2 linked regions of the Homo sapiens genome follow. The protein of the gene in region 1 purifies or fractionates together with the protein of each later gene. This does not show direct contact. Each region holds a gene or a part of one and is shown on either strand. Other genes may lie near its edges.

Evidence for each region.
Region 2: the proteins of ZNF396 (region 1) and BCL7B purify together in Homo sapiens (affinity purification with mass spectrometry; one large-scale study listed by BioGRID and IntAct). This does not show direct contact.

Annotation. Positions count from the first base shown.
Region 1 is NC_000018.10:35,367,338-35,370,837, forward strand, and holds part of ZNF396 (zinc finger protein 396), read right to left. Parts: intron 2,324-3,500; coding exon 1,878-2,323; 3' UTR 1,109-1,877; coding exon of another isoform or gene 1,014-1,108; 3' UTR 1-1,013. UniProt on the Homo sapiens protein: Isoform 1 and isoform 2 act as DNA-dependent transcriptional repressors.
Region 2 is NC_000007.14:73,547,691-73,551,190, forward strand, and holds part of BCL7B (B-cell CLL/lymphoma 7 protein family member B), read right to left. Parts: intron 1-3,500. UniProt on the Homo sapiens protein: Positive regulator of apoptosis. Plays a role in the Wnt signaling pathway, negatively regulating the expression of Wnt signaling components CTNNB1 and HMGA1.

The sequences.
Region 1 (3,500 bases):
CCACATATTTGGAGCTCCTCTAAGCCAGTTTCTGGAGATACTCTAAGATATGGTTGGATTTTCTGAGAATGAAATGTTTTATACTTTATGAGGAACCCAACCAGACAAAGAAGTTTACTATGAGTCTCTTCCCTTATTCCAAGGACTTTGATTTCTGATGTTTGCCTCCATATTGTGTAACTGTAGCACCATGGAAAACACAATACATGTATTATTGTAGTAACATTACAGAGTTTTATCAAGAATCTCTGGAAAATAGATAATTTTGTTGTTTGTATACTGTCAGAATAATTTTAATAATGTACGATTCAGTAATTTTAAACAGGGAATCTGGCTGAATTAAATGCAGGTAAAACATAGTTACTCATATCCCATAGATAAGCCAAATAAGATATCCCATAAATGTCTTAAAACTTATAAACTATAATGGTTAGGTTCAACAATTGTTTATAAGGGACTGCAGTGGACCCTTTAAATTGAACTTCAGTGATTTGTCCATATGTACAAGAGCATCAAAATCCAGGGTCTCATTTCATGACAGCGTGTCTAGAAACTCATCTTACTAAGAATACAGAAGACTCTGAAAAGGTTGTCTTGTGATGCTTGAAACATATTCATAGTTGATTTATGCCAGAAAAGGGGACACTGAAAGTATTGTCATCAGCAGTTACGGGCTTCCTCTTCCAGTTAAGCTGTGGTACATCTCTCCGACACACACTGTACTTGACAACACTTGTGGTACATCAGTCTTGTTTGACAATTTTGTTCATCTCCCTTTTTTCTTTATATTAAGATGATCATCCATCTTACAGAAGCACCCATAGATTAATATTGTTATGAAAACATTCCTTATGTTTAGCTGACTCCTTGTAGACAAGCAGTCATTTTCATGTTTCCATTGACTTATTTCCAAATTACATTGCAAAGGAGATTATTTTTTTCCAACACGGGAAATTAACTTGATATTAATAGTATGGAGGCTCTTGTGTGCTTTCATAAGATAAGGCCTTTATTTATCTGCCTCCTGAAAGTGACCTGGGGCACTTCAGCCTAGTCTTGAAGTACATATTCTTTTGGGCCTCTGCAATCGCATGTTCATATTTTGAATCTAGTAACAGAAGACAAAATAGGAATTTATTTTTATTTTTATTTATTTATTTATTTATTTATTTATTTATTTTAAAGACGGAGTCTTGCTCTGTCTGAGCGGTTCAAGCAATTTTCCTGCCTCAGCCTCCCTAGTAGCTGGGATTACAGGTACACGTTGCCATGCCTGGCTAATTTTTTGAATTTTAGTAGAGACGGGGTTTCGCCGTGTTGTCCAGGCTGGTCTTGAACTCCTGAGTTCAGGCAATCTGCCTGCCTCGGCCTCCCAAAGTGCTAGGATTACAGGCATGAGCCAACCGCACCCAGCCAGGAATTCTTTTTGAGTGCTTTAATTTTTGGTCTTTAGAATTCTAGTGCTCAAGTTATGAAATGGAGGAGAATGTCTATTTTTACACTGAGTAACTCACACATTCCTTCTCAATGAGGGAAAAAACATACTTGTCTAAAAAGATATATACTAATTCATTATATGTGTTAATAATGAAAATAGTAGAACATGTCTGAGAATGCCTTTTCAAGGCCTGCATAGGGATGGAAATCTGAATTAAGCTTTGGAATTGCAAACGTCAGAATTGAGACTGCATTGATAAGCAGAAAAGCAAATAATGCTGACCTGAGATCTTCAACCTTCTCTCCTGTGGCTTTCATGAGTCTTGAAAGGAGACTGGTGCTTACTAAGACCACTGATTTGTACTAAGGAGCGTTTGCATCTGGTGTCTTCCCTTGTGCTGAAATAGCTCTGAGTAAATGCTTTGATTCCCTCATGATACTTATGGGACTTTTTTTCTAATGTGTCTTTTCCTATGTCTAAAAAGATTTGAGCTCTGACTAAAGGCTTTGCCACAGTCATGACACTTGTAGGGCTTCTCACCAGTATGGGTTCGTCGATGCTGAATCAGAATTGCGCTTCGGCTGAATGCCTTTGCACACTCGTCACATGCATAAGGTTTCTTTCCACTGTGGATTCTCTGATGTAAAATAAGGGCTGAGCTCTGACTAAAGATTTTGCCACATTCATCACATTTCTGTTGTTTTTTCCAAGAAGGGTTTCCTTGTCTCTTTTCAAACCTACCATCTTGTTCATAGGTTCCTCTATATGTGGAACTCTGGGAGCCATTCATATGAAGGATATTGGAAACATTGCAATGCAGTTCTATGCCTAAAGAAGTCTTTTGCCTTGAAGCAGATTTCACATTTGTAGTTTTGATGTCTTCATCTGAAATGGAAAAACAAATGTCACCAGGAAAGAGAAAGGATGATCCAAATGAAATATACATGATTATTGCTAGCATGTTTATAAAACAACACACAATGTGAAGGACGGAGAGTGTAAGACAAAATATTGAGAAGTTTATATAAGACATAGAGAAAGGTTTACATACTGAGGAGGCAGTCAACTAAACTGTAAAGTTGCAAAGTTCTATGGAAAAGACAGAATAGGGAATAAGGATAAAAAGATATGTCAGAGACTAAGGAAAGTCTGGAAGGAAAGAAAGGGCTTAGAAAGAAGAAATGATTGGAGACACAGAGAGCTAGAAGGAGAGGAATCCAATGTGCCAGTGGGAGTAACAAACAAGATTTAGTACTGGAGTATCAATAAATAAATAAAGCTTAATATTCATAAAGGAATCAGTAACTATGCAAAGAAATGAGCTGAAGAAAGCCAAGGGGCCAAAAAGGAATGTGGAAAATAAAGTAAGAAAATATAAGTTAGGCCAATAAAGGGAAGATTATAGACTAGGATAACTAGTACCTCAAAAGATCAAGGGTAGCAGAGTACCCACTGATGAAAAACCTCTACTCCTGTATGGATTTTATATTACTGGTTGAATCGCTGTTTGTTGTATTATTTTGTATTACATTTAACATCCATGAAAAACGTACATGGCTGCTTATGGGCTGCGGCCACTCAGGCGGCACACAAACCTGGCTTGATGCAGAGGGCCTTATGACTCAGGGTGCCTAAAGCTCCAGCAGAACTGCTAACTCAGATGTGAAAATGCCAGTGTAATGTGGTTGCATTACCTGAAGAAATCACTTCAGTTATCCTCATGGTGGCATTTTTTTTTTTTTTTTTTTTTTTTTTGAGACGGAGTCTCGCTCTGTCGCCCAGGCTGGAGTGCAGTGGCGGGATCTCGGCTCACTGCAAGCTCCGCCTCCCGGGTTCACGCCATTCTCCTGCCTCAGTCTCCCAAGTAGCTGGGACTACAGGCGCCCGCCACTACGCCCGGCTAATTTTTTGTATTTTTTAGTAGAGACGGGGTTTCACCGTTTTAGCCGGGATGGTCTCGATCTCCTGACCTCGTGATCCGCCCGCCTCGGCCTCCCAAAGTGCTGGGATTACAGGCGTGAGCCACCGCGCCCGGCCCATGGTGGCATTTTAACTGAAGCTG
Region 2 (3,500 bases), on another chromosome or scaffold:
CATCAATTTTCAACATGAAAGTGAAACAAAGATATTTTCAGAAAGTTTTCCCCACAGAAGCTCTCTTTGACAAAACTCTTGAAGGATGTATTCTAGCAAAAAGAAAAACAAATGTAGGAGAAAACAGTAAGAAGTCGGTGCATGAGGCTGAGCACAGTGGTTCACACCTGTTACCCCAGCACTTTGGGAGGCCTAGATGGGCAAATCACTTGAGGTCAGGAGTTCAACACCAGCCTGGCCAACATCATGAAACCCCGTCTCTACCAAAAAATACAAAAATTAGGCTGGGTGTGGCAGCATGCACCTGTAGTTTCAGCTACTGGGAGGCTAGGCACCAGAACTGCTTGCACCCAGGAGGCGGAGGCTGCAGTGAGCCAAGATTACGTCACTGCACTCCAGCCTCAGAGTGACACCCTGTCTCAAAAAAAAAAATGTAGGTGCATGAAATTTTAGGCGAGCCTGGGCGCAGTGGCTCACGCCTGTAATCCCAGCACTTCGGAAGGCGGAGGTGGGCAGAACACGAGCTCAGGAGATCAAGACCATCCTGGCCAACATGGTAAAACCCTGTCTCTACTAAAAATACAGAAATTAGCCGGGCCTGGTGGTGTGTGCCTGTAATCCCAACTACTCTGGAGGCTGAGGCAGGAGAATTGCTTGAACCCGGGAGGCAGAGGTTGCAGTGAGCTTAGATCGCACCACTGTACTCCAGACTGAGCAACAGAGTGAGACTCTGTCTCGAAAAAACAAAACAAAATAAGGAAACAACAACAACAAAAATTAGCTGGATGTGGTGGCATGTGACTGTAGTCCCAGCTACTCAGGAGGCTGAGGTGGGAGGATCACTGGAGCCCAGGAGACAAAAGTAGAAGTAAACCGAGATTACATCACTGCATTCCAGCCTGGGCGACAGATTGAAACCGTGTCTTACAAAATAATAATAATAATAAAAAAAGGAGCAGGCCGGGCACAGTGGCTCACGCCTGTAATCCCAACACTTTGGCAAGCCGAGGCGGGCGGATCACCTGAGATCGGGAGTTGAAGACCAGCCTGACCAACATGGAGAACCCTAGTCTCTACTAAAAATACAAAATTAGCCAGATGTGGTGGCGCATGCCTGTAATCCCAGCTACTTGGGAGGCTGAGGCAGGAGAATCGCTTGAAACCAGGAGGCAGAGGCTGCAGTGAGCCGAGATTGCGCCACTGCACTCCAGCCTAGTCAAGAGAAGCGAAATTCCGTCTCAAAAAAACAAACAAACAAACAAAAAAAACTCCAAAAAACAAAACTCCTGTTTCTGGTGGGAATATAAATTGGTACAACTACCATTTCAGCAAATAGTTTAGCATCAGCTAATATAGGTCAAAACATACATACCCTAAGACCCAGCCACTTCCCTTCCAAGAATATATCCTAGGAAAACTCATGTACATGTTGATGTGGATTCTGAACAAGAATGCTCACAGGGGCATTGTTCCTATTGGCCCTAACTGTGGACAACCTCAATATCTACAGGAGAACCAGAAAAATAAACTACACTTAGCCATGTGATGAATATGCAGCAAAATACAGCAGAGAGAGCAATGGAAAGGAATGGGTAACTCCAAGGACAACATGGATGCATTTTACAAACATAATGCTGAGCAAAAGAAACAAGACACACGAAAATAGATACTTTATCATGCTGTTTCCATAACACTCAAAATGTTAGAGGCTGGTGCAGTGGCACATGCCTGTAATCCCAGCTATTTGGGAGGCTGAGATAAGATCCCTTGAGCCCAAAAGTTCAAATCCAGCCTGGGCAACAATGAGACCCCCCACCATCTCTAAAAAAGGAAAAAGCGTGGGTACGATGGCTCATGCCTAAAATCCCACCACTTTGGGAGGCCGAGGTGGGAAGATCATTTGATCCCAGGAATTTGAGACCTATCAGCCTAGGTTGACATAGCAAACTCCCATCTCTCCAAAACAAACAAAAAAAAGAAAGAAAAAAAATTAGCTGGGCATGATGGCATATGCCTGTGGTCCCAGCTTCTCAGGAGGCTGAGGTGGGAGGATTGCTTGAGCCTGGGAGGTCAAGGCTCCAGTGAGCTGAGATCATGACACTGCACTCCAGCTTCGGTGACATAGTGAGATTTTGTCTCTGGAAAAAAAATCTCAAAAATAATAATAAAGGAAAAACTGTTTATGAATGACTAGACAAGTGGTAAGAAAAGCAAAAGTAGGAGAGTCATTACCTTTAGAGGGACAGGAGGAAGAGGATGGGAAGAGCTGCAGAGAGGTCTGCTGGGGTCTTGGCAAAGCTGTGTTTTGCAGAGTGGTTCTCACAAGAGTGTTAGCTTTATATTTATTCATACACTGTACATTTATGTTTTATATACTTCTCTGTATGTGTTTTATATTTGAAAATTTAAAAAACAATTAGAAAAAATAAAGTTGGAAACAATCTGGGTATTTATCACCCAGAAAATATGTAGATAAAGGTACTCACTGCAAATAAGAAAATGCAATGCATGAGTCAAAGGTAATAATTCTATTTATATTTACAGATACATGGAGGGTTCTCAAAACAAGGTTGGGCCAGGCACGGTGGTTCATGCCTGTCATCCCAGCACTTTGGGAGGCCAAGGCAGGCGGATTACTTGAGGTCAGGAGTTTGGGACCAACCTGGCCAACATGGTGAAACCCGTCTCTACTTAAAATAGAAAAATTAGCCAGGCGTGGTGGCAGGCGCCTGTAATCCCAGCTGCTCAGGAGGCTGAGGCAGGAGAATTGCTTGAACCTGGGAGGCAGAGGTTGTAGTGAGCTGAAATTGCACCATTGCACTCCAGCCTGGCGACAGAGCGAGAGTCCGTCTCAAAAAAACAAAAAAGCAAAAAACCCCAAATTAAAAAACCAAAGTTGAACCACAGAGAATACAAAGAGGTTCTGGCAAAATACTGTACATATTTTTTTTTTGTTTTTTTTTTGTTTGTTTGTTTGGTTTTTTTGAGATGGAGTCTCACTCTGTCGCCCAGGCTGGAGTGCAGTGGTGCGATCTCGGCTCACTGCAAGCTCCGCCTCCTGGGTTCACACCATTCTCCTGCCTCAGCCTCCCGAGTAGCTGGGACTACAGGCGCCCACCACCATGCCCGGCTAATTTTTTGTACTTTTAGTAGAGACGGGGTTTCACCATGTTAGCCAGGATGGTCTCGATCTCCTGACCTCGTGATCCGCCCGTCTCGGCCTCCCAAAGTGCTGGGATTACAGGCGTGAGCCACCACGCCCGGCCCACATATTTAAGTTTTGTTTAAACACAAAAATACACATATGAAACAATGCTATGTATTTTTAAAGAATATACAGGTATCCAAATACATCCAACAAAGATGAAGCACAAAGGTCTACACCAGAATTAGAAAGATGTATATACATATGATACACACAATACAGTGGGGGACTAATCGCATAAGAGCAAGTATCAGCAAACTTTTTCTTAAAGGGTCAGATGATAAATATTTTAGGT